Homo sapiens: one gene and its partners. The protein of the gene in region 1 purifies or fractionates together with the protein of each later gene. This does not show direct contact. Each region holds a gene or a part of one and is shown in the gene's direction. Other genes may lie near its edges.

Evidence for each region.
Region 2: the proteins of PTPN3 (region 1) and VANGL2 purify together in Homo sapiens (affinity purification with mass spectrometry; 3 studies listed by BioGRID and IntAct, with this or other methods). This does not show direct contact.
Region 3: the proteins of PTPN3 (region 1) and SHKBP1 purify together in Homo sapiens (affinity purification with mass spectrometry; 4 studies listed by BioGRID and IntAct, with this or other methods). This does not show direct contact.
Region 4: the proteins of PTPN3 (region 1) and KCTD3 purify together in Homo sapiens (affinity purification with mass spectrometry; 4 studies listed by BioGRID and IntAct, with this or other methods). This does not show direct contact.

Annotation. Positions count from the first base shown.
Region 1 is NC_000009.12:109,418,146-109,425,456, reverse strand, and holds part of PTPN3 (tyrosine-protein phosphatase non-receptor type 3), read left to right. Parts: intron 1-2,604; coding exon 2,605-2,739; intron 2,740-3,971; exon of another isoform or gene 3,972-4,223; intron 4,224-4,856; coding exon 4,857-5,033; intron 5,034-7,311.
Region 2 is NC_000001.11:160,410,434-160,417,744, forward strand, and holds part of VANGL2 (vang-like protein 2), read left to right. Parts: intron 1-5,214; 5' UTR 5,215-5,404; coding exon 5,405-5,475; intron 5,476-5,628; coding exon 5,629-5,749; intron 5,750-7,311. UniProt on the Homo sapiens protein: Involved in the control of early morphogenesis and patterning of both axial midline structures and the development of neural plate. Plays a role in the regulation of planar cell polarity, particularly in the orientation of stereociliary bundles in the cochlea.
Region 3 is NC_000019.10:40,579,667-40,586,977, forward strand, and holds part of SHKBP1 (SH3KBP1-binding protein 1), read left to right. Parts: intron 1-657; coding exon 658-819; intron 820-899; coding exon 900-990; intron 991-1,079; coding exon 1,080-1,270; intron 1,271-2,684; coding exon 2,685-2,800; intron 2,801-3,731; coding exon 3,732-3,819; intron 3,820-3,934; coding exon 3,935-4,051; intron 4,052-7,077; coding exon of another isoform or gene 7,078-7,107; coding exon 7,108-7,278; intron 7,279-7,311.
Region 4 is NC_000001.11:215,577,164-215,584,474, forward strand, and holds part of KCTD3 (BTB/POZ domain-containing protein KCTD3), read left to right. Parts: intron 1-506; coding exon 507-565; intron 566-765; exon of another isoform or gene 766-827; coding exon of another isoform or gene 828-837; coding exon 838-918; intron 919-1,836; coding exon 1,837-1,974; intron 1,975-2,745; coding exon 2,746-2,836; intron 2,837-7,311. UniProt on the Homo sapiens protein: Accessory subunit of potassium/sodium hyperpolarization-activated cyclic nucleotide-gated channel 3 (HCN3) up-regulating its cell-surface expression and current density without affecting its voltage dependence and kinetics.

The DNA of each region.
Region 1 (7,311 bases):
TTACAGGCATGAGCCACCGTGCCAGGCCATATTTTCTAAATCATTTGTTGGTTTTTCAAAATTGTTTTCGTGATTTGTTGTTGATGTGGCTATTACTAACTAAATGAGACCCGTGTCTGAGCCATTATCTTTCTGATAGGTGGAACTGCATCAGACTGTTCCAGTTACTTTCCTAATACATTGATAATCATTAGGGAACTTGTAAACTGAATAAGTAGCTAATTTCTGTTAGTATCAGTGATACTATTTGTGGTGCTAAATGCTATCTCTCAGCTTCTGATGAACCAAGAGTGAATATATTAAGTTTTTAGCTCTTATAATACTGTTTAGTATTTGTATACATTCAGTAGATCTACTGTTGAGCAAGCCATGAAAATAACTTACTGGATTATATCATTGACTTAGGTTGGGCCTGATCCTCAGGCCAGATGAGAGAAGGAATGGGGAGGCAACTGAAACCATGCCCTCTGTTGCTGAGCTGCCTGGGTTCAAATCCTGCCTCTGTCACTTGAGCTTTAATTTGTTGCTTCTATTTCTTCATCTGCAAAGCTTTGTCATCTGCATGCATCCAATGCCAGCAGGGCTGGGTTCTGGTCTTGTATTGTGGCACAAGAAAATACCCCTATTTTGGTGACTGAAAGCAACACCCATTCTGTTATATCTCATGACTTTGTGAGTCAGGAATCCTAGAAGGGCTTGGCCAGAGGCCTCTTCTGCTCTGTGTGGTGTAGATAGGGATTTCTCAGTGAATGTGGCCAGAGGATCCAAGATAACTTCTCTTGCATACCTGGTGTCTTGATGGAATGGTTGGAAGGCTGGACTCACCTGGACTCCTTAGCATCCCCATCTGGATACTCCAGGAGGGTGGTTGAATTTCTTACATGGACACTCAGGGTTCCAGGAGCGAAAGGCAGAACCGTTCAGCCTTCTTAAGGGTGAGACCTGGCACTGGCACAGCGACTCTGTTGCTGAAAGCAGTCACAAGCCAACCCAGATGCAAGACTCAAAGAACTTGCAGTCATCTTTAATCTGCCACAGGGGATCATTTGGGTTGGGAGGATGGCTTGGGAGGACAAGTCAGCAGTTCTTTTACTACCTGTGCCAGCTTCAGCATACTGGTGAATTTCAAGTCTCATTACCTCCATTTTACAGATGAGGACACTGAGGCTTAGAAGGGTCACATGACTTGCCCAGCCCCTAGAGATACAGATACACATCTGCTTATTGGGCCTTCTGAAAGGTTCCACATAAAAAGAAATTTGTTGGGTTATTTTCCAAGCTTATGGGACAATGGAACACTTTTTTTTCAGAGAGTCCCTATTAATAACCCATGACACATTAAACCTTGGAGTTGGGCAGTTTGCTCCCCTTGTTTTGATCCTGTGCTCTTCATCACTGGCAGTGTGGTTTCTGATGTAGGCCTGCCTCAGAGGAAAGAGTCTCCCAGTGATGCTGTTGTGAGCATTTTGATCAGGGTGACAACAGCATTTCTTAATGTGAATTAGTACATGATGTGCTACAGGGCGATTCATATTGTTTATGTTCTTTTGTTTGTTCTTTGTTCTGTTTTGTTTTTGTTGGTTGGTTGATGTCATGTCACAAGGAAATGTGTAGAATGTTTTCATAAGACATTAAATCCTAGTTTAAAATTTAGAGATGCCAGAACCAAAGTTGTCACCCTTTAACAGGGTGACAGGCTTCATGCTCTATTCTCTCAAATAATTCATTCTCTGAGGGGTCTAGATAGCTAAGATTTAAATTCTCTAGGTATAAATAAAATTCAAAAGTAACCTTCAGGGTAGCACATTTCAAAGAACGTAGCCTGAAACTCTGTATAATTTTTTGTTTTTGGAGACAGAGTCTTACTGTGTTCCCCAGACTGGAGTGCAGTGGTGCGATCTTGGCTCGCTGCAACCTCTGTCTCGGGGATTCAGGGGGTTCTCATGCCTCAGCCTCCCAAGTAGCTGGAATTATAGGCATGCGCCACTATACCTGGCTAATTTTTTGTATTTTTAGTAGAGGTAGGGTTTTGCCATGTTGGCCAGGCTGGTCTTGAACTCCTGACCTCAAGTGATCCACCCGCCTCAGCCTCCCAAAATGCTGGGATTGCAGGCATGAGCCACTGTGCCCAGTTTGAAACTACTTTCTAAGCGCATTTTCAGATTCTCTCTCAAAGATTTACCAGTGATTTATAGTGACAGCTCCTGCCAGCTAGGATGATGAAGAGCACCTGAAAAAATGGTTAATATTTTTACTTAGGCCAGTGTGAATAAAATAAGAATTCCTTGAAATCACTGGAGCTGTATTTCTGTGTGATCCTGGAATTCCTTCTAATCTGGTTAGGTTTGGTTATATTCTGGAAACAGCTTTGTTGCTTGAGTAGTGAGGACAAGAAAGGATTTTCACCCGAAGAGAAGAAATCACATAAGGAAATTCCAGGACAGACAGGAATCGCTTTTGAGCTGTCTCCCTCTACTCCCCATAACCTTGGCATTAACCTGCCGTCCTTCAGACAAGAAGCATGTGTAGACTGTTTCACACATGCAGTAATTTCTTTCCTGTTGAACGTCAGTGTAGAAAGTGAACCTGCATCTGGTTTTTCAGGTCGGTAAATAACCAATATTGCAAAAAGGTGATTGGCGGGATGGTGTGGAACCCAGCCATGCGGAGATCCTTATCAGTGGAGCACTTAGAAACCAAGAGTCTGCCTTCTCGTTCCCCTCCCATTACTCCCAACTGGTATGTCCTCCTTTTTTTTTTTTTTGTACTACCCAACAGTAGACACTTTATCTCTTTTAAAAATAAAAACTCAACTTATAAACTCCTAAAGATAGATGACCTACAATTTGCATTTTAGGCTCTTGGCAGAAGTAACTGTTTTCATGAAGTACACAAGTCTAGCTAAATGTTTTCCATCGTGTATAATGCTGAGATGCTCTTTTTAAAAAAACTTATTCAATCTAAATAGTTTGGGAAACTCGAGCCTGCTGAAAGGCCTCCTTTGGAATCACAGCACACATTAGCATATTAAACACTCTGAGACGTCCAATAATAAAAAAGTACGGTTAGCTTTACTTAATTCATGTTTTCCATTAATATCCCACAAAATAAACTTTAGGGAAAACTAACGCAGGTACGTGATGTAAATGATGTAAGGATGTATGACCTTCAGCAGCAGAAGCAAATGCACATCAGTAAGTAGCAGGCCAACTTAAGAGGATGGACTCAGCTTAAAAAGAAATAGGTGGTCGTTTGGTAAAGTGAGAAGGGCACTGGGTTTGTAGCAGAAAGACCTAAACTCAGGTTTTGGCCCTTCTGTTAATTAACAAGTTTCTTTACCTCTGTAGCCTCAGTTTCCCCATATCTAAAAAGATGATAAAAACTACCGCAAATGAAATAATAATGTACAAGTACGTAGTAAGCTTTTAAAAGAGTCAGGTGGAATTATCATTATCTTATTATAATGGTCCTCAAAGACATCACACCATTTTTGTGAATACCTCCAAAAAGGCTAGGGGCCAGAGGGGAAACCTAGCAGGGAATCATTGCCCCCAGCTCCACACTGGAGTAAGAGTGCGTGGCTGTAAATACCTGATCCAGGATCTGCTAAGCCTAAGAGAAACTGGGAGACAGGCAGACAGAGGAGATGCTGTGCTGGGCCTGCTAGGGAAGGACCCCTTCACTGGGGGCCTAATGCTCTGGGAAGGGACAGTGATAGTATTTAGTGTTAGAAATCATGACGTAACTGAATAGATTTGCTTCTTGGTTTCCAACATTTAGATACCTCATTCTAAAGAGGTAAATTTATGCTATAACACAGCAGCTTAATTTATCTGAAAATCTCATCGGCAGCAATGCCAGGGGCCCAGAGAGCCCAGGACTGGATCCAGGGGAACAGCGGGGTTGGATGTTGCCACACTCGTGGCCCGGAGCTCCTGTGGCTATTTATAGGTCCTCTCCTGAGGAGTCACAAGAGCCTTTTTACTTCTGCTTTGGACACAGCATTATTGATTATCCAGGCCCAGGGGGATTGCAAATCATGGAGGCCCTGACAGTCCTGAGGAGAAATGGCTAACAAAGAAAGGGAAGATGGAAAAACTGTGAGGGAAAATAGAACTTAGAAAGCTTGGCAGCTTGGGATCCCCCGCTGCAGGAGCTGACGCCCAGGTGCCACACTGGATGCCCTGAGAACACGGCCTCATTGGATTCATTCTCAGGAGCAGGTAAGTACAGCCGAGGCCCAGAGAGGTGACGTGCCTTGCCCAAGGTCACATGCCTACTGCCACTGTTGGAGGACAGTCCAGTGTTTATATGCCCATCTAATGCATATAAACGTGTTTAATAAGGGATATATCTTAAAAAGCAAACATTTTCTCTTGGATCAAGTGAAATTCACATGAAGGGATGTCGTTGAAATAAGGTTGGAGTTTTGCTGAGAAATGTAGTTTGGCTTCTAACCCTTTTGTTTGCATTGTTCAAATTAATCAGAAAAATTATCTGAATAGCAGTCCATATGGCCTATTTATGTTTTGAGAGCTTGAGTCCTCCTGGAAGAATAACTTACCCTTAAGTCAATACCCGTCACTTCCCAAAGGGCATAAACCCATCTAATTCTGCCTGTTTATACAGCTGAGGCTACTGTTTTGGGAGCCACCACTTGACTGAGAGTGTTAGGGATTTGTGTCACCCTTGGTGCCTTCTGCTGGGGTAGTAATGAGTTAACCGGCTCTGAATGTCAGCCTCCGCCAAGGAAGGCATCCTTAGAAAGGTCAGGACACGAGGTTCACTGGTGTCTAATAAAATTTTTAAGTGGAATTTGCTTTGAACACTTTGCACTCAACGTTTTTCCCACCCAGGCGAAGTCCTCGGCTCCGGCACGAAATCCGAAAGCCACGCCACTCTTCTGCAGATAACCTTGCAAATGAAATGACCTACATCACGGAAACGGAAGATGTATTTTACACGTACAAGGGCTCTCTGGCCCCTCAAGACAGCGATTCTGAAGTTTCTCAGAACCGAAGCCCGCACCAAGAGTAAGAAACTCGTGTTGTTTTATTTCTGGGTATTTGCTTTTTGGCTGTTGCGGAATTTGCTCAGGTCCAGGTTGCCATTTGAGAGGAACCAAGAGCTGGTGCCTGCAGCCAGCTCCCACAGGTGCCTTCTGCCAGGATAAGAACATAAATCAGACTCTACCTTTTCACCCGGAAGACGGTCTATGTGCCTGGGGTCTAGAGCTTGTACTTCTTTTTGTCCACGACAAAGACTTCCTAGTCACTAAGTACTTGTTAGTCTCTTGAATTAGTCTCCTCTCCAGCTCACAAGCAAAGCCCAGTTTAATCATTCCCTGTTCTGGAGGTACAGACTCTAGGGCCATGCTAACTCTGATTTCTCTAGATTATTAAAGTTTTACCATCACATGATTTCAAATCATTGGAAATATGCTTGCTTCTAAAAGCCTTCTCCGAACAACAGGGTTCTGAGGGGTTTTGTTTTCAATTAATAGTTAGTATAAAGAAACAAACGTTAGAACATCTCTAATTTTCTTTGAGAAATTTTTTGTTAAATTTTTATGTCCTACCTCCCCCACCCCGCTTTTTTAACGTGACAGAGTTCCCTCATAGCTCAAGGACAGAAAAAATGTCTGTCCTGAAAGATGGTTGAGTGCTTTTGTTATTCAATAGGATATATTTAACCCATTTGTTTCCCTTTTTGCCTTGGTTACCAGGGAGTTCAGAACTGCACATTAGGCTCAATTGTATTCACTTCCCTCAGCCCAGATTTCTTGTATAGGACCTTCTCTTCCTCATTTGCCTTTGTTATATGGGTCTTTTTTTTCTTATTTTAATGGATTCATAGTTACATATCTGTACGTTTTGGGGTAAACTCGCAAATCATTTTTTTAAGTAGGTAAGACATAGATTATAAATTAGGTTAAAGCATGATAGTAAAGGATCAACTGTTAGGAAATCAACCATAGTCATTGGGTATCTATTCTGTTAAGCCCCATACTATTTCTAAAATATAGTAAGATAATGGCCCCCCTAACAGCTGAGGATTAGCAAGCAGGCACGTTAGTTAATCTGTAAATTTTTTACCACTGTAGCTATTAGGCTGAAAGCATCAAATGCACCCTGATTGGACTCCAGGCATTTGCAGGTGAATTGCAAATCTCCTTCCCATTTGTATGTGAGGCTGCTACCTCTCCTCTGTCCTTGCCCACAGCAAACATGGTTTCCAGTTTATCTGTGTTCTTAACACCTCTGGTTAAATAATCCCTGTGGTCATTCTTTCCTTGTGACCTGAGCTTGGATGATGCTTTTGCTAAATGATTGCTATCTCTTGTTCCAACTTGCAGCCTGCTGCCCCTTTGTCAGGGCTACAGTGGATGATTGTGAGTTCCTTTGTGTGACTTTGTAGCTTTTCAAACCACAAGCACATCTAGAAATACAAAGCAGGAGTGCAGGCATGCGTGACTAGAGCCGTTTTGAGTCTGCAGTGGGGGCTCTGCGGCTTTGGCAAAAGGAGAAAACGGTTTAGGGAAGCGTTGGAGGGCTCTGGGAAGCCCACTCACACCTGCTGCGTCAGAGCTTCCTGTGGTGGTTTGCAGTCCCATCACAGAATTGTACAGCATCTAAACCTTCCCTGTCCAGTACAGCAGCCACCAGCCCCAGTTGTCTATTCAGATTTAAATTAATTAAAATAATAAAAATGTAGGCATTCAGTTCCTCAGTCACATGAGCCTCATTTGAATTGCTTGACAGCCACACAGGAGTGTTGGCCTCCATCTTGGACAGCACAGATACAGCCCATTCCCATCACTGCAGAAAGTGTTGTCAGCAGCACTCATCTAGACTAACACGTTTATTCCATCGTTCATTTAAAGGGTGAACCCCTAGAATATCTACAAGCGAAAAGTGCATTTTTCACACAGAATTCATGTGGGAGTAGGTTTGGAATCATCACCTTGCTTGCAGTCTGGGCGCTCCACACCACTCACCCAGCTGCTCATCTGTGGCATGGGGCAGGTGGATAGCCTCTGAGTGCCCTCACAGCCCAGCACCCTCTGTCTCTTTATGCAATCAGTGCCAGGTGGGGAGGGATGCATTCTGTCCAATGACATGCAGGCACTTTAGAGGGCTTGCATTCATTCCCAAGTCCAGCGGCACACTTTATACATCCTTGGCTGGTCATTGAGGGGAACACCGGAGCAAATCAGAGAAGTTGTTTCAGGAGCCTCCAGGCCAGCTGGGCAAATAGCACATTATCAGCCTACGCTGCCACACTCCAGGGCTCTGTCACTTTGGTGAAAGG
Region 2 (7,311 bases), on another chromosome or scaffold:
CCTCACCCCAGGCCTAAAGTAGCCGGGACTGGGCTGCGGGGTGGGCCCGGGCTAGAGCAGTGGCAGGAGGTGGCGTCTGGAGCTGCCTGCGTCTGGTCATCGGCCCCCAGCACGCGCCACACATGGGGGTGCTGGCGTTTGTGTTCAACGCCTTGCCCACTTGAGCCGCCTCCTTTGAGTGGGAAATGGGAAAGGGTTGGTCCGCCCTGGTCTGTGTTTTGGCCAACACCCACCCCCCTTATACACACACACACACACACACACACGCACGCACGCACGCACTACTCTAGGGCCCTGCTCCCTCTGCCTGTTGCCAGGTTCTGAGTGTATTTTTTCCAGAGGCCTCCAATTGTTTCCTGAAGAAACCTGATCCCAGAGCTCAGACAAAAGCTGGGGCCGCCAGAGGAGAAACCCCATTCTCTCCTCCTCTGTCCCTATTGCCCCCACCTCCATAACCTCCCTCCCTTTGGATGCTGGGTATGGGTTCCAGGACCCGGCTGCCATCACCTAGGCAACAGGGGGCTTTTGTTGCCATGGTGATCAATGTGGGAGAAGCTGGGCAGCAGGGACAAAAGCCCCCACATTCCCCCCTGCCAAGCTCCCCCCCAATCCCCTTGGGATGATACTGAGACACATTCCATTAATTTTATTTCTGAAAGGCCTTTGGAGGGGAGAAGGGTCTCCTTTTTGTAACAGGCTCTCTCTTCTCTCCCTCTCTCCTCCCTGGCCTCATTTTAACCCCAGATAATCCATGGTTGGTTTGAGCAGGGGACTGAGTGTGTGTGTTTGTGTCTTGGGAAGTGGGGGGCAAGGTGAAAGGCAGTGGGGCACATTCCTTTTCTATAGCCTCCCCCTTCCCCAGACTAGGGCAGCTCCCTGTCCTGCACCAAGTCCGGACTTCCCTCCCTGTCTCGTCATCCCTCTTGACGTTTCCACTTGTTGATCTCATCCAGCCATCCCCTCCCCCCATCTCTTCCCTGGGAACGCTGCCCACCCAGGGGACCCTCCAAACCCCTGATCCCTGAGACTGATTAAATAAGGGGAACTTCTGCCCTTCTCTTTACTCCCCTCTCCTCCCTCCTCCCAGGCCCCCCAGCAGCAGTGCTTGGATTAGTTCCCTGGTGTACTTGAAGACACAGCAGGCAAGGGTCTCAGAAGTCGGGTTCATTTTTGGCACCTGTGTTTGGTAGGGAGGAGACAAGCGTGTTTTGGTGCTTTTTGGGCACTCTGACTTGGGTTGGCAGGCCAGGGGAGCAGGATTCATGTTGAGTCTTTAGTAAGTAGCAGGGGAGGAAGATAGGGGGCACTAGGCTGGGCAGCTCAGAACAAAAGGGGACTGGTACCCTTGTCTGGTTTGAAATTTATCTGTAGGGGAAATGAAATGGCATCAGTTTACCTTCTGGGTGTGTTTGAAGTGGTGGTTCTGGTTGGTGTGTGTGTGTGTGTGTATGTGTGAGACTTCTTTATTTAGTTGTACTAACAGCAGGGTTTATTTATACCACCTCTTTCCCTAGTCTCAGAGGAAGTGTCTGAGGATTGGAGTATGAGTGATCCTGGAGCTAAAACTTGTTAATTGCTTAACTAATTACTAGCTGAACCATTTATAAAAGCACTTCTTTCACCCTCGTGATCCTTACGGCTACCCCATGAAAAGGCATCATTGTCTTCACTATTTTACTAATGAGCTTACCAGGCTACAAGCACAGAGGTGTTAAGTAACTTGCACATAGTCACACAGCTAGTCAGTGGAAGAGTTAGGTTTTGAACTCAGATCTTTGAGTGCACATCTCTGGCTCTTCTGGCTGTTGGCTTTGGCAGATGATGGGTATACAGGAGGATGAGGAGATGGACAGCCTGGGATCTAGTGTGTGTGTCTAGACTCTAGTCCGTGGCAGTTGTTTACTTCTCCACCCCCTTCTCTACCCCCATGTCACTCTGTGACCCACTCGTTGCCTTTGAGCCTCCTAGCAAAATTCAGTTTTTATGAAGAAGACTAGAAAGAATAGGCTGGAACCACAAGAGAAATGCAGGTCAGATGTCTAAACTATAAGGAGGAGTAGGCCAGTAGAATGGGTCCTCAGGAGAGTGGGTAGATGAGCCCAACATATATTTTTCAGGTAGGGGGATAAATAAGGGTCATTTTTGCTGCAAAGTTTTTTGGAAAGGCTTATGGTTGGGTTAAGGTATTATGTCCCTGTCCTCTAAGTGTGTCCTTATCACGCACGTGCTTTGACATGGGGATACTGACAAATATAACTAATCCTATGGAGGATTGCCTCCATTGAACTCTGTTAAGAAGATGAATGAATAGATTTCACATGCTTTCATCTCCCTACAGTCATTATAGTTTCCCTGAGAGCCAGAGAGGCATACAGTCATGGATGTTTTGGTCAACGATGGACCACATATATGATGGTGGTCCCATAAAATTATACTATTGTATTTTTACTGTACTTTTTCTATGTTTAGGTACACAAGTACTTACCATTGTGTTACAGTTGGCTACAGTGTTCAGTACAGTAACATGCTGTACAGGTTTGTAGCCTGGGAGCAATAGGCTATACCATAAGGCCTATGTGTGTAGTAGGCTATACCGTCAAGGTTTGTGTAGGTACATTCTATGATGTTCCCAGGATGCAGCTGCCTAATGACACATTTCTCAGAAAGTATCCCTGTGGTTAAGCGAGGCATGACTATGTTCATTTACTAGGTTGGTATCAGTTCCTTGCTCTGTGCCCATGGGAGGCGAGATGGATATAAATATGTATCAATCATATTGCTTATTCTCAAATTACTGATGGTTTAGAGTAGTTGGAGTAAAGGTAATGATACAAAGCAAATCCATTTTAGGTTTTTTTTTTTTTTGAGACGGAGTCTCGTTCTGTCGCCCAGGCTGGAGTGTAGTGGCATGATCTCGGCTCACTGCAACCTCCACCTCCCAGGTTCAAGCAGTTCTCTGCCTCAGCCTCCTAAGTAGCTGGGATTACAGGCACCTGCCACCATGCTTTTTAGTAGAGACGGGGTTTCATCATCTTGGCCAGGCTGGTCTTGAACTCCTGACCTCGTGATCCACCCGCCTTGGCCTCCTAAAGTGCTGGGATTACAGGCTGGGATTACCCGGCCCCATTTTAGTTTTTAACATAATCAGCCTCTCAGCAGCATTTGACCTGGTTGACTTAATTCCCACCTCAAAACACTGTTAAATTTCTGGCTGCCTTGAGACCCCACTCTTCTGGCTCCCCTCCTCCTCTGGCCTTCTCATCCCCTTTGCCTGCTCCTTTTCCTCTGGACATGTCTACCTATTGGGGTCCTTTATGTCCATGGAAGAGTTAGGTTTTGAACTCAGCTGGATCTGAGTTCTATCTATCCCCATAGCTTTTCACACACTCAGTACCTCCAGCTCAGACTGTCCTCCAAGTCTGGCTCGTCTGACACCTGGCTGCCTACTGTCTCATGGCCACTAACTTAGCAGGCTAGAAGCTGAACTAATTATCTTCCCTCACAAGGCTGCTTCCTCCCCAGTCTTCCCTACCCTACTGATGGTGCTACCATCTGCTCCCTTGCTCAGGCCGGGGATTCTTAACTCTCCCTTCCCGCTCATTAGGTCCTGTTGATTTGACCACCAACATTAAGTCTCAAACATGACTGTTACTCACTCTTCTGTGGCTCTACCCTTAGCAAGCCTGTACTACTGCAGTCGCCTCCTTATTGATCTCCCTGTTTCTATTTTTCCCTCTTTTCAATCCATATCTGCATAGCTAAAATCCTTCAAAGTTTTCCTGTGGCCTTAGAATAAAATAAAGCTCAAGCTCTTCACCTGGTGCCTGGCTGTCTCTGCAGTGCCACCTTCTACCACCCACTCTCTTCCTCAACTCTAGCTCCACTGGCCTTTGTTGGTTCTTTAAATACAACAAGCTCTTTCCTGCCTTTGGCCTTCACACATGTGATTCCTCTGCTCCATGGGCATTTTCCTGCACTCTTTGCTTGGTTAATTCCTATTTCTTCTTCAGGCCTCTGCTGAGGTGTCCTTTTCTCAGACTTTCTAGAACCGCTAAGTTTAAAGTGGTAGCCCTTACTCCATGGGTGTCTCTCATAGTTTGCTGTTCTGCCCTTCCATCATGCCTGCAATCGGTCGTTTATACTTATCTGCTTACTTGTTTGGTGTGCCCCTTCCCTGCTAGACTGTAAACTCAGGGTCTGTTATACCACTTTATACCTAGCAGAATACATGGTTCATAGAAGGTGCTCAAACAAGATTTGATGCGTCAATGACTGAAGATAGGAAGTAAGCGCTCGGTGGATGGTGATGGCTGTTAGGGGAGTCAGGGTCAGCAGGGAAGATAACATTGGGTCTAGAGTAGGTGGGGGCTCCTATGAGGGGGTGGGGCCGGGCTCTGAAGAATGAGCAGGATTTGGGTGGGGGTTAGAGAGAGGAGAGGTCATTCTCCTCTGCAGAATCAGAAGGTGAAGTATGGTTGAAGATAAGCCTATAAATAGGCAGATAAACTTGTGCCTTGCCTGTTTCAGAACTTCAGGCAAGTAGAAACTTGTCTTCTCCTCCCATCCCCTACCATATTATCCATAGTTTCCACCCCTCACCCTCACCTGGGGCTGTGCATATGTGTGGCAACCTCAAGGAAGCTGCCAGCCTGATCTTACCGGTAACACTGGGTGTGTTTGAAGTAAATGCTGGGGAGATGGTATCAAGGGAAGCAGCCCACTGTGGGCACACTCAGAAAGTATGAGTGAGGGGAGGAGGTGTAGCATGGGGAGAAGAGGCCTGGGGTAGCCCCTGGACAGAAGCCCGCTCCTTTCTGCTCTCTGAGGTGTCCACTGATTCAGCCTGTTGGCCTGGCCAGAACCTGCCCTCTTCATGCCTCGGTTTCCCTGGCTGAGAATAGGGAAGCAATGCCCTGCTCCTCCCTTCCAGAGGGCTTGGGGTTGGGTCATTCTGGGTGAGCCTTCCTGCCCTGGGAGCCTTTGCTGGCCATCTTCCCCCATGCCTGAGTCCTTGGCACAGCCTGGCAGGGCTCTTTCTAGAGAAGGGTAGGAGGAACTGGGCCCAGTGGACAGCAGGAACCTGGGTGGAGATATTCTCAGGCTATGGCTGGGCTCATTTGAGCCTCCTGTGGCTGTTGTGTGCAGATGGTCTTCCTCTGCCCTGACCCCACAGGGAGCTCGAGCCGCCTCTAACTAGCTTCTTCCTCTCACCAGGAGCGTCGCTGGATTTTCTCTGAGACAAGCCCACCCGTCCAGCAAAATAGAGTCCCTCAGGGTGACAGTTGACTTCCTGAAGGTGCCTCTTGGCCTAAAGAAGCCGGTGCTGAAGGAGGTGGCTGTGGGGCCCCCCAAGAGGCCCCAGCCTGCGGCCCTGGAGCGCTACAAGGCGCGGCGTTCAGACGCCATGGACACCGAGTCCCAGTACTCGGGCTATTCCTACAAGTCGGGCCACTCCCGCAGCTCCCGCAAGCACAGGTGGGCAGGCATGCAGGGTGACATGCGTGGCGGAGGGAGGGTTGGGGGCTGTTAAGAGGTGGGCACGTGCAGGGGTGGTAGGGTAGAGTGGCTGCTGAGAAGACCCTGGTCCACCACTGGACTTTCTGTGCCTTTTCTGGCTTCCTGCCGCAGGGACCGCCGGGACCGACACCGCTCTAAGAGTCGAGATGGGGGCCGAGGGGACAAGTCGGTGACAATCCAGGCTCCCGGGGAGCCCCTGCTGGACAATGAGTCCACACGAGGGGATGAGCGGGTGAGCACTGGGGATGCGGTGGTCCAGACCGGGCATTTTCAGACTGCTCCTGAGGGGCTGGAGGCTCCACGGAGTGGGGGAGGGCTTGGAAACCTGGTCTCAGACAGCCATCAGATCGGGGAGTGTGTTTTGTGTTACACTTAGCTTGGCTTAGTGTCTTAAGGTAGGACCTTCAGGAATTTCAGTATAGAGATCCCTCTGGAAGCAGCAGCCTCTCCTTCCTTATCTCCAGAGGAGTGGGGGGTGACCTGGGCTGTATGATGGGAATTGGCCAGCTCCTCTGGAGCTGCCGCCAGCCAGTCAGGCCCGCTGGGAGTCTGGAGCAGGAGGGTGGTGGTGGTGGCTGGGCCTGGGGTATGTGTGAGCAAAGCTGAGTATTCCTGGAGCCTCGAGATGTGGGCACTCTGTGCCCTCTGGTGTCAGCCTGTAGAATGGCGTCACCTAGATCTTGGGAAAGGAGTATGGGAAGAGTAGATGGAGAAAGCCCAAGGGACAAGAAGTAAGGCTGAGGGATGGAGCAGGGACCCCAGGAGAGAGTTCTCCAGGACAGGGGTGAGCAGGTTTTCTATTCTAACCTCTGCTGCCCACTGTGCTCACCTGGTAGGGAGGACAGTGGGCAGAACACAGTCCTGGAATAGGGCAGAGGCAGGATTTTAGGTGACACTGAGGTTGCCCAAGTCTCATTCCCCTTGGGATCATCTTTGGGGGCTGGAGATTCCCAGCTCCTTTTTCCTCAGAAGAAATCTCTGTGGCTGACATTGGGAATTCCTGGGCCTTGGGAGCAGGTCAATACCTGAAGGAAATGTTCTTTTTCCCTCTCTCCCAATCCCTTCTTCCTGGGGCCTGGCCTCCTGAGTTCTTGAAGTGACCCTGAGACATGACCAGCTCACCTGCTACTGGGGAGGAGATCCCAAGCCCTTGGTCCTTGGAGGGGGTGGGCAGTATGTCTAGGGGTCAGAGGGCGGGGAGCAGACCCAGGGCTTTGAGCTGAAGGCAGTCAGTGCATCTGCTTTCTATCTTCACATCAGACTCGTTCCCCATCCTGTAGAGAGGAGGTTCCTCAACCTCCCTAATCACTGGTGCTGTCGGGCTGCCTTCATCCTGTAACCTCAACCTCCTGGGTGTCAGGTTGTGATTCCATATCCCCAGGCTGTCCCAGGAGCGAAGGGTGGGTGCTGAAGGCAGCTGGTGGTCTTGGGACTCCTCCGTGGGATGGCCTCCAGCCACTGCAGAGAAACAGCTTGAGCAGACCACACTTAGAGGGACACCTGGGGACCTCAGCCTGGCCACCTTCTTGCCTCCAGAGACAGGTAGCCTCTGCACTGTAGACATTTAGATGGCCCAGCAGAGGTGGCCTTGCAGACCAGAGACCCAGAGTGGCCTTGAGTCTGCACAGTGTCCTTCACGCCTTCACCCCTTTACCCCTGGGGTCTTCTGTTCTTCTCTGTGCTGCTTTGATCAGGTTTACTCCTTCAGTGGCTCTCCATGCCTGGAGAACAGGTGCTTATTGCCCAGCCCAGCACTGCAGCGTGGCCTGCACAAGCCCTGCCTGGCTGCTGTCT
Region 3 (7,311 bases), on another chromosome or scaffold:
CAAAACAAAACGAAAAACAACTCTGGCTAGATGCTATTGCTTGCCAAGGGTGCAGTCTTCCATTTATTAAAAGTGAAAATTAGGGCCAGGCACATTGGCTCATGCCTGTAATCCCAGCACTTTGGGAGGCTGAGGTGGGTGGATCACCTGAGGTCAGGAGTTCGAGACCAGCCTGGCCAACATGGTGAAACCTTATCTCTGCCAAAAATATAAAAGATTAGCCATGTGTCGTGGTGGGTGCTTGTAATCTCAGCTACTTGGGAGGCTGAGGCAGGAGAATCACTTGAACCCAGGAGGCAGAGGTTGCAGTGAGCCAAGATTGTGCCATTGCACTCCAGCCTGTGCAACGAGCGAAACTCCAACTCAAAAAAAAAAAAAAAAAAAAAAACGGAAAATTAGGTAATACTGCAGATTCATTAATATCACAGCAGCACTAAACTCAGTCTTCCTCTGTGCTGGGCTCAAGGGAACTGAAAGGGAAGTAACTTGCTATGTGGTTCAGTGTCATTTCATGCTGTGTCACTGCACCACTTAAAATCTTCACCCGGAGACTATGTCCCACACATGGGGAAATCAATCACCGTCATATTTTAAGTGCTTGCTGTGTGACAGCCACGATTACAATGACTGTTACTCTACCTCTTATTCTCACTGTAGTGTTCCCAGTGAAGCGGCGGAACCGGCACAGCCTAGTGGGGCCTCAGCAGCTAGGAGGACGGCCAGCCCCTGTCCGACGGAGCAACACGATGCCCCCCAACCTTGGCAATGCAGGGCTGCTGGGCCGAATGCTGGATGAGAAAACCCCTCCCTCACCCTCAGGTACGTTTCTATCTCGTGGAAGGTTGGGGCAGCTGTGGGGTCCCTGTGACCCTCTTCTGATCCCTACTCTTCCCCTCAAGGACAACCTGAGGAGCCGGGGATGGTGCGCCTGGTGTGTGGACACCATAATTGGATCGCTGTGGCCTATACCCAGTTTCTAGTCTGCTACAGGTGCTTGGGGAGGGAGTGGCAGGAGGTCCCAGCCCTGTTGATGGGAAGGGCATGCGGTGAGGGTTGGTGATGTCCCCTCGATCCTACAGGTTGAAGGAAGCCTCTGGCTGGCAGCTGGTGTTTTCCAGCCCCCGCCTGGACTGGCCCATCGAACGACTGGCGCTCACAGCCCGGGTGCATGGTGGGGCTTTGGGTGAACATGACAAGATGGTGGCAGCAGCCACCGGCAGCGAGATCCTGCTATGGGCTCTGCAGGCGGAAGGCGGTGGCTCCGAGATAGGTATGACCCCAAGCCTTTTCCAGAACCCTCTGTCCTTTAAATTCTACTGCCTGTTAAAATGACCCACCCCATAAAATCCTCAAACCCATAAGAATTCTCTGCTCTATTAGATCTGTTTGTGTCATTAGAATGCTCCAGCCCTTCAGAATTCTGTATCCTGTTAGAATTCCCTGGCTTCCTAGAAAAATCCACCCACATACAATTCTCCCTCCATCAGAATTCCCTGCCCTGTTAGATCTCTTGGTTTTGTTAGAATGCGCTATTCTGTGTGGCCATGAGAAATGTCTGACTTGGCCCGGTGCGGTGGCTCATGCTTGTAATCCCAGCACTTTGGGAGGCTGAGGCGGGCAGATCACTTGAGGTCAGGAGTTCGAGACCCCCTTGGCCAACAGGGTGAAACCCAGTCTTTATTTCAAAAATACAAAAAAATTAGCTGGGTGTGGTGGCACGTGCCTGTAATCCCAGCTACTCAGGAGGTTAAGGCAGGAGAATCACTGGAACCTGGGAGGCAGATGTTGCAGTGAGCTGAGATCGCACCACTGCATTCCAGCCTGAGCGACAGAGTGGACAGAGTGAGACACCATCTCAAAAAAAAAAAAAAAACAAAAAAAGAAATCTCTGACTTATGGCTGGGCACAGTAACTCACATCTGTAGTTCCAGCACTTTGGGAGGCCATGGCAGGAGGATTGCTTGAGGCCAGGAGTTCGAGGCTGCCGTGAGCTATGTAAGCCATGATTGCACCACTGCACTCCAGCCTGGACAACAGAGCAAGACCCTGTCTCAAAGCCACAGCAACAAATCTCGGACTTATTAATCTGTCCCCAAATAAATCTCAGCCCTCGTAAGAATCCCCTGCCACCAGTGGAGGTTTTTTTGCCTTATTGCAAATCTCAGTGCTGTTAGAATTCCAGACCGTTTTAGAATCCCATACCCCATCAGAAATCTTCTGGCCCATTTTATCTTCTCTAATTCCTGCTGGAATCTTCACTTTTTTTTTTTTTGAAATGGAGTCATTCTCTGTTGCCCAGATTGGAGTACAGTGGTATGATCTCGGCTCACTGCAACCTCTGCCTCCTGGGGTCACGCAATTCTCCTTCCTCAACCTCCCAAGTAGCTGGGGCTACAGTTGTGTGCTACCACACTCAGCTAATTTTTATATTTTTTAGTAGAGATGGAGTTTCATCATGTTGGCCAGGCTGGTCTCAAACTCCTGGCCTCAAATGATCCGCCCACCTGAGCCTCTCAAAGTGTTGGGATTACAGGTGTGAGCCACTGTGCCCAGCCCCTGATGGAATCTTCTATCCTTCAAGGATTCTGTGGTCCCACTGAACCCTCTGGTCCTTGGAGTTCTTCCTCCCACCTCTCCTCCTCCATGAGGCAGGGTTCCAGCTGAGCCCTTTTTGCCCACTGCAGGGGTCTTTCATCTGGGGGTGCCTGTGGAGGCCTTGTTCTTCGTCGGGAACCAGCTCATTGCTACAAGCCACACAGGGCGCATCGGGGTGTGGAATGCCGTCACCAAGCACTGGCAGGTCAGAGTTCTGGCCAGCCTGGCTGCCCCCTTCCCAGTTTTCCAGACTGTACAGACCCAGGAAGGGGTTCACGTCTGCCCCCACCCCCACCCCCTAAGCCTGGAGGAAGCCAGAGAACCAGCAGCTGGCCAGAGCCTGGGGATGTCTGTGATAAAGGCCTAAGGAGCACCAGGGAAGCCTTCCTGGAGGAGGTGCTGCAGAGCCCACATGAAGCATGAATGGGTTTGAAAAGGAGTAGGGAGGATTGTCTTGGGACTGGGTGAGAGAGCAGGTTAGGGGGGATGCTGTAGAAGACAAGAACTGGCTTGGCTCGGTGGCTCACACTTGTAATCCCAGCACTTTGGGAGGCTGAGGTGGGAGGATGGCTTTGGGAGAAAGACAGACAGAGGCAGAGAAAGAGACAGAGAGGCAGAAAACCAGGCAAATAGAAATAGAAAATCAGAAAGAGGTGACAGAGAAGGGTAGACAGAGTCAAACCAGACTGAACCACTGTGGCAGATGGGGGAACTCAGAGAGATAAATGGAGATGAATTAGAGTCATGTCAGAAGTACATAGTGGAGGCCGGGTGCAGTGACTCCCGCCCGTAATCCCAGCACTTTGGGAGGCCGAGGCAAGAGGATGGCTTGAGCCCAGGAGTTTGACGCCAGCCTGGGAAACATAATAAGACTCTGTCTCTACAAAAAATTTAAAAAATTAAAACTTTAAAAAGTACAGAGTCCAGGAGAGGCCAAGAGTCAGACAGACAGATGCATCAAAGGGAGGAAGGGAGGGAACAAGACAGGGACAAAGGCAGGCCTGGGGTGGACGGGGCTGGGGAGCAGTGGGTGGGTTCTGGAGGTGGAGGAGAGGGCCCATCCTCTGTGAGGGGTCACCACGGAAGGAAAGGAATGGAAGGGCTCCCGGCTGCAGCCTGTCCTGCCCCACCCCCAGGTCCAGGAGGTGCAGCCCATCACCAGTTATGACGCGGCAGGCTCCTTCCTCCTCCTGGGCTGCAACAACGGCTCCATTTACTACGTGGGTGAGCAGCAGCCTGTGTCCCGGGTGCCCGAGACCCTCCCCTGGGAGAGGGGAAGGGAGGGAGAGAGGCTGGGGCACTTGGAACAAACCCGCTCCACCCTCCCTGCCCACCCCAGATGTGCAGAAGTTCCCCTTGCGCATGAAAGACAACGACCTCCTTGTCAGCGAGCTCTATCGGGACCCAGCGGAGGATGGGGTCACCGCCCTCAGTGTCTACCTCACCCCCAAGACCAGTAAGCTATGACCCGGCTTCCCCTGCTGCTGTCACCTGCCAGCCCCAGCCCCAGCCTGCAGCTGTCCCCCAACTTGTGTAGCATGACCCAGAGGGGTTTATCGAGGGGCGGCAGATTCAACTCTCTCTCATTTTTTTTTCTGAGACAGACTCTCATTCTGTTGCCCAGGCTGGAGTGCAGTGGTGCAATCTTGGCTCACTGCAACCTCCACCTCCTGAGTTCAAGCGATTCTCCTGCCTCAGCCTCCCAAGTAGCTAGGATTACAGGCGCCCACTGCCACGCCTGGCTAATTTTTGTAGTTTTAGTAGAGATGGGGTTTCACCATGTTGGCCAGGCTGGTCTTGAACTCCTGACCTCAGATGATCCTCCCGCCTCAGCCCCCCAAAGTACTGGGATTACAGACGTGAGCCACCGCGCCCAGCCAGATTCAACTCTCATCCAGTCATTCAACAAATATTTACTGAGTATCCCTGTATATAAGCACGTTCTAGGTGCTAGATGGTGGCCACCCTCTCCACTAGGGGCAGAATGGACCATTAGGAGTTAATCTTTGTGTTTCTTTCCCACCTTTGTGATTAAGGCATGATGTTCACATGTTCATAAAACAACACAGATGCAGGTTTTACAGCAGATGAACCTGAGTTCTCTTACTTGAGACAGTTTTTTGTTTTGTTTTCTTGACATCAAATGCAGAATGGGTTAATTTTTGAGACGTAATTCTCATACCATAAAATTTCCCATTTGAACGTGCACAATTCAGCGGATTTTAGTATATTCACAAGGTTGTACAACTATCACCATGAACAAATTCCAGAGTATGTTCATCACCCCCGTAAGAAACCCCCTGATCTTTAGCAGTAACTCCACATTTCTCACTTCTGATACCCTCTAGAAATCACTAATATGCTTTCTCTTTTTGTTTGAGACAAGGTCTCGCTCTGCTGCCCAGGCTGGAGTGCAGTGGCATGATCTCAGCTCACTGCAATCTCTGCCTCTTGGGTTCAAGCGATTCTCATGCCTCAGCTTCCTGAGTAGGGGAGGATTACAGGTGTGCATCACCATGCCTGGCTAATTTTTCTACTTTAAGTAGAGACTGGGTTACGCCACGTTGGCCAGGCTCAATATGCTTCCTATACCTATGGATTTGCCTGTTCTGGACAATTCCTGTAAATGGGATCATACATTATATGGTCTTTTGTGTCTGCATTTTTCACTTAGCATATTTTTTTAAATGGTTAGTGTTTTCTGGGTCTTAAGATATCCTTACCTATTCTAGGTTACAAAGATCTTCTCCTGAATTTCTTCTAGAAGATTTACAGTTTAGTTTTTACATGGAAGTCTGTTCTATCAGAAATTAAATTTTATGTATGGTGTGAAGCAGGGATTATTCTTTTTTAAAAAAAAATAGAGACAGGGTCTTGCTCTGTTGCCCAGGCTAGAGTGCAGTGGCATGATGTGAGTTCTCTGCCACCTCCGCCACTCGGGCTCAAGCGATTCTTCTACCTCAACCTCCTGAACAGCAGAACCACAGGCATGCATCACCACACCTGTCTAATTTTTGTATTTTTTTGTAGAGACAGGGTTTTGCCATGTTGCCCAGGCTACTCTTGAACTCCTGGGCTCAAGTGATCCTCACACTTTGGCCTCCAAAGTGCTGGAAATACAGACTTGAGTCACTGTGCTTGGCCATAGCTGCTGCTGCTGCTTTTCTTTTTTTTTTAAAGCAGAAATAAGTTAATAATACACCTAACTTCATGACACATTATCACCTTTCTTCTTTGTAAGGCCCTTTTCTTATTTCTTTTTTTTCTTTCTTTCTTTTTTTTTTTTTTTGTCTTTTCCTGAGACAGAGTATCGCTCTGTCATTCAACCCAGGCTGGAGTGCAATGGCGCAATCTCAGCTCACTACAACCTCTGCCTCCTGGGTTCAAGCAATTCTCCAGACTCAGCCTCCCAAGTAGCTGGGATTACGGGTGCCTGCCACCATGCCCAGCTAATTTTTGTGTTTTTAGTAGAGGCAGGGTTTTGCCACGTTGGCTAAGCAAGTTTTGAACTCCTGGGATTCTCCTCTCGTCGTCTCCCAAAGTGCTGGAATTACAGGCATGGGCTGCTGCACCCGGCCTCTTTCTTATTTCACTTACTTACTCATTTCCTCCTCATCTCCCTTCCCGCCACATGCCACTATTATGTCATTTTTCTTTGTTTTTTGAGACAGTCTCGCTTCGTCACCTAGGCTGGAGTGCAGTGGCGCAATCATAGCTCACTGCAGCCTCACCCCCTGGGCTCAAGTGATCCTCCTACTTCAGCCTCTTGAGTAGCTGGGATCATAGGTGAATGCCATCACACCCAACTAGTTTTTTAAAAATCTTTTGTAGAGATGAGGGTCTCACTATGTTGCCCAGGCTGGCCTCAAACGCCTGGCCTCAAGCAATCTTCCTGCCTCGGCCTCTGTTCTCTGTTTTACTTTCTCTTTCCTCTCTTATTTGCTGTTTCACTGTTACAATTTCTGTCTCTGGGCCTCTCCTCCTTTGACCTGTGCCTTTGTCTCCCTGTTCCTCCATTTCCCACATCTCATCACCATCTTTTTGTGTCCTTCCCTCTCTCCTTGCTTTCTGACTGTGTCTCTGTTCTGTGTCTCTTTCTTTCTTTCTTTCTTTTTTTTTTTTTGAGACAGAGTCACATTCTGTCATGCAGGCTGGAGTGCAGTGGCGTGGTCTTGGCTCATTGCAACCTCTGCCTCCTGGGTTCAAGCAATTCTCATGCCTCAGCCTTCTGAGTAGCTGGGATTACAGGTGCGTACTACCACCACCAGCTAATTTTTGTATTTTTACTAGAGACAGGGTTTCAGCACGTTGGCCAGGCTGGTCTTGAACGCCTGACCTCAAGCGATCCACCCGCCTCAGCTTCCCAAAGTGATGGGATTACGGCGTGAGCCACCGTGCCCGGCCTCTCCTTGCTTTCTGACTGTGTCTCTGTTCTGTGCCTGTTTCTTTCTCCCTGCCCTGGTTTCTGTCTCTGTGGCCCAGGCCCTCTCCTCATCCTTGGCCCCTCACCAGGTGACAGTGGGAACTGGATCGAGATCGCCTATGGCACCAGCTCAGGGGGCGTGCGGGTCATCGTGCAGCACCCGGAGACTGTGGGCTCGGGGCCTCAGCTCTTCCAGACCTTCACTGTGCACCGCAGCCCTGTCACCAAGATCATGCTGTCGGAGAAGCACCTCATCTCAGGTGAGCCTCTGTGGGGTGCTCCAGTGCTGGGAG
Region 4 (7,311 bases), on another chromosome or scaffold:
CAAATATTTATTACATAACTATTTTATACAAGCACTATGCTAGGCACTGTGAGGTATACAAACATAGATCAGAAATAGATCATGCTCGCAGGGAATTTATAGTGTAATTGGGGAGATTAAGATAGATATGTATAGAAATAATTGCGATAAAAAGTTAAAAGCAACTAATGCCATAAAAGAATGGTTTCCATTCTATCGTTTGCCTTCTAGACAATTTATTTGTACTAGCCTGATAGAGCCCTAATCTCTCCTTTAGTGACCCAATTCATATATATGTATATATATGAATGGTTTTTAAGTAGATAACAGAATATTTTTGTTCACATGCAGTTTTTATTTACACTTTTTAATGATTAAGGATAATAGAAATAAAGAGTATTAGGAGGAAAATAATTTTTAAAGCCTTATGACTATATACATGAAGAACCTAGAATTTTTTCCTTTCATGTCAGATGATAATACAGGTTTCCAGTGTTAGAGAATTTACATCATTTGTTTCTTTGTAGGGGAGTGAGTATTAATGTTCTCAGGCATGAAGCAGAATTTTACGGGATCACTCCATTAGGTATGTGCTCTTTTAATATTTGGTGTTTATGATTTGACTCATGTATGAAAGTTGCCCTAAATGAAATGTGTTTATATCAGGTCCTAATTTTTGATGGACTTGTTCAGTGCTTAGTTTTTGTGGATTTTCATAGTAAAAAGATGTTGTCAACTCTGACTTAATTAAAATTTTCCTTTTCTTTCCTTATCCTCTTGAACTAGAGAAAATAAAAATGGAGTACTGTTTTTCTGTTTGCATGTACTCTTGACAAGTTTGCTTTGAAATGTTTTTAGTAAGAAGGCTTCTCTTATGTGAAGAATTGGAGCGTTCCTCTTGTGGCAGTGTCCTTTTTCATGGTTACTTGCCCCCACCAGGTATTTTCACTTTATTAAATCTTTTAAAAAATTCCTTGTATCATTAAGCAAGTACAAGCATATGAATAGGAAAAACTGCTCCTTGATTATTGAGTTTTTTGTCTATAAATCTATTAGAAATGGTAAGAACTTTTGATTTTTATAGAAATTAAGTCACATTATATATTGGAGCAGGGGTTTGGCAAACTTTTTCTGTAAAGAGCCAGATAGATTTTGTGAGCCAGAGGATCTCTGTGACAGCCACTTAACTCCGCTGTGTATACTACATGAAGACTAGGTTTAACTGTAACCACTACAACTTTATTTACATAAATAGCATTGATTGGGCTGGATTTTCCATGGCCCATAGTTTGCTGACCCATATGTTAGAGCACTGGTTGTCAAACTGCTTTTTTGCAAAATTTAAGGAATTCTGCAGAGATAAGTCAGTGTCACCTCAGCCCCACTTTAGTTAGAAGAGCCTGATTTTACCTGTGTTATAATGGACTTCTGAGCAAGATTTCATTTTAAAAAATGTTCCCCTGTCAAATAAAAAATGTTTGAAAGTATGGGGAATTTCAGTTCTAAAGCAGTTAAATTATTACATAGTACCTAACACATAATACCTGTACCATAATTGTAAAGAGTGGCTGGCAGACTGAATTAATTACCCATTAATTCAGTAACCTAAAGCTTATTTATTGTAAACAGTATGACAATACCAGAAATCTGTTGACAGAATTTTGTCTTTGTCTTTGTTTTTTTCATTTTCATTTTATTTTTTAATTGTAATTAAATTATTTGTAATAATTTGCTATATTGGAAGATGTATTTCGGCTTTAATGAAATTCACATTTTTGTTTCTTTGTCACAATGTGATATTTTTAATTTTTGAAAGGTGAACTTAGGAATGTATTTGTTTTCTTCTTCTCTTTATAGGTATTCCTAGTCGTAAAATAAACAACACAGTCAGATCTGCTGATTCTAGGAATGGTCTAAATTCTACAGAAGGTGAAGCCCGGGGAAATGGTACACAGCCTGTTCTCTCTGGAACGGGAGAAGAAACTGTTAGGCTAGGTAAGCAAAGATTACAGAAATAGAAAAAGAAAAATACGTATGTTTTTAGTGCTGGGTGATATTGAGTAATTACTTTTAAAGATTTTTGCCTCATCTCCTTTTTTATCCAGATTTATCATTTATATCTTGGAAAGGTCTCATTTAACACTTAATTTTTATTTAAAATGTTGTGTAATCTTCTATCTTCTCTGAATCTTTAGAACAGGGTTGCCAAAATTTATCTGGTAAGAGCCAGAGATTAAATATTTTAGGCTTTGTGGGCCACGTGTTCTCTGTCAGACCTACTCAACTTTGCCATTGTAGCATGAACACATAATGGACAATATGTAACAAGTAAGCATGGCTGGGTTCTAACAAAACTATTTTTTTTTTTTTTTTTGAGACGGAGTCTCGCTCTGTCGCTCAGGCTGGAGTGCAGTGGTGCCATCTTGGCTCACTGCAAGCTCTGCCTCCTGGGTTTACGCCATTCTCCTGCCTCAGCCTCCGGAGTAGCTGGGACTACAGGCGGCCGCCACCATGCCAGACTAATTTTTTGTATTTTTAATAGAGATGAGGTTTCACCGTGTTAGCCAGTATGGTCTCGATCCCCTGACCTCATGATCCGCCCGCCTCGGCCTCCCAAAGTGCTGGGATTACAGGTGTGAGCCACTGTGCCCGGCTCTTAACAAAACTATTAACCAAAACAGGCAGAAGGCTGAAACTGGCCTGGTGGCTGTAATTTGCCAACCCCCGGTTTAGAATGTAAAATATTTCTTTTTCCAAAATCAACAGGATTTCCTGTGGATCCACGAAAGGTGCTAATAGTAGCTGGCCATCACAACTGGATTGTAGCTGCATATGCCCATTTTGCTGTGTGTTACAGGTAGTGTATAATTAATAATGCTTTGCTTTTACAGGTGGCAGTTTGAAAATTAATTGTGATTTTATATTTTTAGATTGAAAAGCTATTTTTTTTTAGTCATCAAGTTTTTTCCCTGCATATTTTACCCATGTCTGTATCATCTGATTAAGATTTAGTGTACTTTTATTTTCACAGCTAATTTGGTAAATGTTTCTGATAGCCTTTATCTGTTGTAAACATTTAGCAGACAAGTGTGAATTGTCATGTAACTGAGATATCCTGATGTATTATTTATTGCTTATACCTAGCTTCTGAGACTGTAGTATATAATGATGTTAGACAGGATTATTAATGTGAGCTCCCTGATGGTCTATCTCTAATGATTCAGTGTTTTGTATTCTATAGCAAGGGAGAGTACATTGGTCATAAATACCACATTTTGGGAAGTGAGGTAGTAAAGCAGGACAGTTATTGCACAAGTGGTATAGTTTAATATCTAATATGTGAAACTTACAAAGAAGTAGTTTGGTTTTACTAATGCTTACATTCTCAGAGCCTGAGAAGCAATGAAGAATAGTGTAGACCGGTGATTTTTTTTTTTTTAATTGGGAAAGTGATAGGACTCTTAGTTCAAAATCACTGTACTCATTGAGAAATGTTGATGACAGAGAATGGTGTAGAAGCACAAAAGTGGTTGGAATATACTAGCTTAGATTATTATTTCATTTAATTGCAGAAAAATCAAAGATACATAAACTATTTGTTTATCACTGTTGAGTTCGGTTAAGAAAAATAGTCACAATAAGCTGAAAAATATCTAAAATGTCTTCTAAAGTTTACAGATATAGTTTAAAGAATCCCAGATGTATTTTTTTTTTAAAAATCTGAATTTATGAAAGGTTTGGCATGTCTGGTAAGTGCTGTTTATATCAGTAATCTCAGGTTTATATTTTCCTTGTAGTAATGATTAAGTGCAGACTTTTATGTTTTAAGAGTGTTTTGGCTGGGCACGGTGGGTCACGCCTGTAATCCCAGCACTTTGGGAGGCCGAGATGGGTGGAGTTCAAGATCAGCCCGACCAACATGGTGAAACCCCATCTCTACTGAAGATACAAAAATTAGCCAGGTGTGGTGATGCATGCCTGTAATCCCAGCTACTCGGGAGGCTGAGGCAGGAGAATCACTTGAACCCAGGAGGTGGGGGTTGCAGTGAGCTGATAGCTCACCATTGTACTCCAACCTGCGCAACAGAGCAAGACTCTGTCTCAATAAATAAATAAACAAATTTTTAAAAAAAGTGTTTTGTGGATTTGTAATTTTAATTATGAAATAGCATGGAAATTGTTTTTTGCATAATTTCTTTGGGGATGGTTTTGTATGAGGCAAGACTAATTTGGTAAAGTAATTTTTTTTTAGGAAGCATTGTTTTGAATTTATCATCTTATATATTTGAATTGAGGTGACTTGTAGACCCTTGTTTACATATTATGTACATATTTTTGTCAATAAGGAATTCCAGAAGAATTGTGAAATGATAAGTGATCCAAGTGTAACAGCATAACTTCCGTTTTGTTACTGTACACAATACTAAAGATTGCTCTTTTCCAGAACCACCACATTATTACGCAAAATTTAACTCACTGGGTAATAATTGTATGGAGGATGATGCTATTACATTTTCCAGTCTTTGCGTTTGCATTGATCACGATCTTTCTGTGCTTTCACCAAGTGTCTGACATTTCAGAGCAATATACTCATGTAAAGTGACGAAGGAAGACAATTGAGGACATATTTGGATTTCCTCACATATAGTTAAATCATTCAACACAATGGCAATAAAAAGATTTCAAAAGAAAGAAAAATATTTAAACTGTTTAAAAGTGTAATCTTTTTTACAAGTTATTTTTCCTCAAGTTTTTGTATCAGTAAGTTACAAAACCTTTAAAAAAAGAGTAGTACAGTGAAGACCTGTATGATGTTCTCCTAGCTTCACTAATTTTCTACATGGTTAGGTTTTATGTTTATGTCCCTTTTTCTTGCTGAGTTTATGACAGTGTTACTTCTATTAACGAAGAGTAGTTGTGTGAATTGCTGCCCCCTTGGGGCTTATATTCCACTTTAGATCTTTAATCCTTGTGGAGTTTACTTTTTTGTATGTGGTATGAGATTTAAGGATTTATTTTCTTCTCAGTGGGTAGGTAATTATGTTCTGACAATTTATTACGTAAATCATTCTTTGTCAGTGAATCTGATAGCCCATTTTATCTTGCTTTATGTGTGTGTATATACTTGGATCTGTTTTTCAGTTCTCTCATTTCCTTAAGACATATGTCTATTCTCATACAACTTGAGGTGAAGTATGTTCATAATAAGTTTCAAAATCTCACAGGGCATGTCCTCTCTACTGTATTTTATTGAGGTCTTCATGTAGGAAATAACTAGACGTAACTCTATTCTTCGCATAGCTGTCTTAACCAGAGGGTTGGTTCACTAGGCAGCAGTAAGATGATGGAGAGGTGAAATAACAGAGCATATTCTTGTTTTATATTTTGTTTTATTTATTATTATATATTTTTTGTTTTGTTTTGTTTTTGAGATTTTGAGACAGAGTCTTGCACTGTCACCCAGGCTAGAGTGCAGTGGCGTGATCTCGGGTCACTGCAACACCTGCCTCCTGGGTTCAAGCAATTCTCCCACCTCAGCCTCCTGAGTAGCTGGGACTACAGGTGTGCACCACCACACCTGGCCAATTTTTGTATTTTTAGTAGAGACGGGGTTTCACCATGTTGGCCAGACTGTTTTCAAACTCCTGATCTCAAGTGATTCACCCGCCTCAGCCTTCCAAAGTGCTGGGATTCCAGGCGTGAGCCACTGTGCCTGGCCTTGTTCTACATATTTTAAATGTATTACTTGTATGGAAAGTTATAGAGCAAATATGTACCTTCTTTGTAATTTTTTAAAAAACAGGTAAATTCACATATCTTATTAAGAGTTAAATTCTGTAGTTGTTATAGTTATTTTTAAATATGCTGTCCTGATTCTTTTATCCTTTTTTGACATCTCTTTATTGTGTAATACCCTAATTACTATAGAGAAAAACAACTTAGAAGTAATATGTCTGTAAAAGATGAGATTATATAGTTTTTTTTTTTAAGTGAATCCAAGTTTATTAAGAAAGTAAAGGAATAAAAGAATGGCTACTCCATAGCCAGAGCAGCCCTGAGGGCTGCTTGACTGAGTATACTTACAGTTATTTCTTGATTATATACTAAATAAGGGGTGGATTATTCATGAGTGTTTCAGAAAGGAGCAGGCAATTCCCAGAACTGAATGTTCCTCCCCTTTTTAGACCATATAGGGTAACTTCCAGACATTAGATGTCATTTGTAAACTATCATGGGGCTGGTGAGAGTGTCTTTTAGCATGATAATGCATTATAATTAGCGTATAATGAGCAGTGAGGACGACCAGAGGTCACTTTTGTTGCCATCTTGGTTTCAGTTTTGGCTGGCTTCTTTACTCCGTCCTGTTTTGTCAGCGGGATCTTTGTGACCTTTACCTTGTGCTGACCTTCCTTGTTACGCTGTGACTAAGAATGCCTAACCTCCTGGGAATGCAGCCCAGCAGGTCTCAGCCTTATTTTACTCAGTCCCCATTCAACTCTGGTTTGAACACCTCTGACATGTTTTCCCCTTCCCTTTTACAAGGGTACTCTTAATCCTAAGGGTTTCAGAGGGAGGAAGATTCATCTTCTGTAACTTCTGCAGTCTGAATAGGGATGATGGTATTTCTGCCTATTAGGGTCTTCTGCATTCAGAGTAGAGGAGAGCTCAGTTAGAAACTGTCAGTATGGTGAGAACTCTGATTTCTGACAAAAAGTGATGACTGAAAAATTAATAAGTGTTCGATTTAAGAAAGCACTGAGTAAGCTTATCTTGCATTCCTACACAAAGAGAACAACAGCAGTATATTCTACAATAACAAGGCAAAATAAGTAAAATTATCCCAAGTAAACTAAATAAGAAGGCTTTTCATGAACTGGGAAATTGTTGTAACCAAGCTGATATGGAGTTGGAACCAAGCTGATGTGCTAGCCAATTCCAATACATGCCCACAATTAGAATACTGATCCAGATTTCTGTGTTACCCATGCCTCTTGTTTCTTCTGAACAGCAGCCACAGATCACTGCTTGGTCCACAAGGATAAGCAGGATGAGTCCAAATTGCAGAAAGAACTCAAAAACTACTGATGAGACAAATCTAATAAAAAGCATACCATAGTTTTTGAAACAATTTTCCTATTTTCAGTCTTTCATTTTTACTAAAGAAATCATGGTAGGACTGATTTGTTTGCAAAATAAGCTTTAGTCTTATTATACTTGGCCTGATTATTTGTATAAAGTGCAGCAAGAATAATTAGTTCCTATATAGGCTCTTTTTAAATTGACTTTGATAGAACTTTGATCCATAAAGAATCTCAAATGAGACTTCTTAAA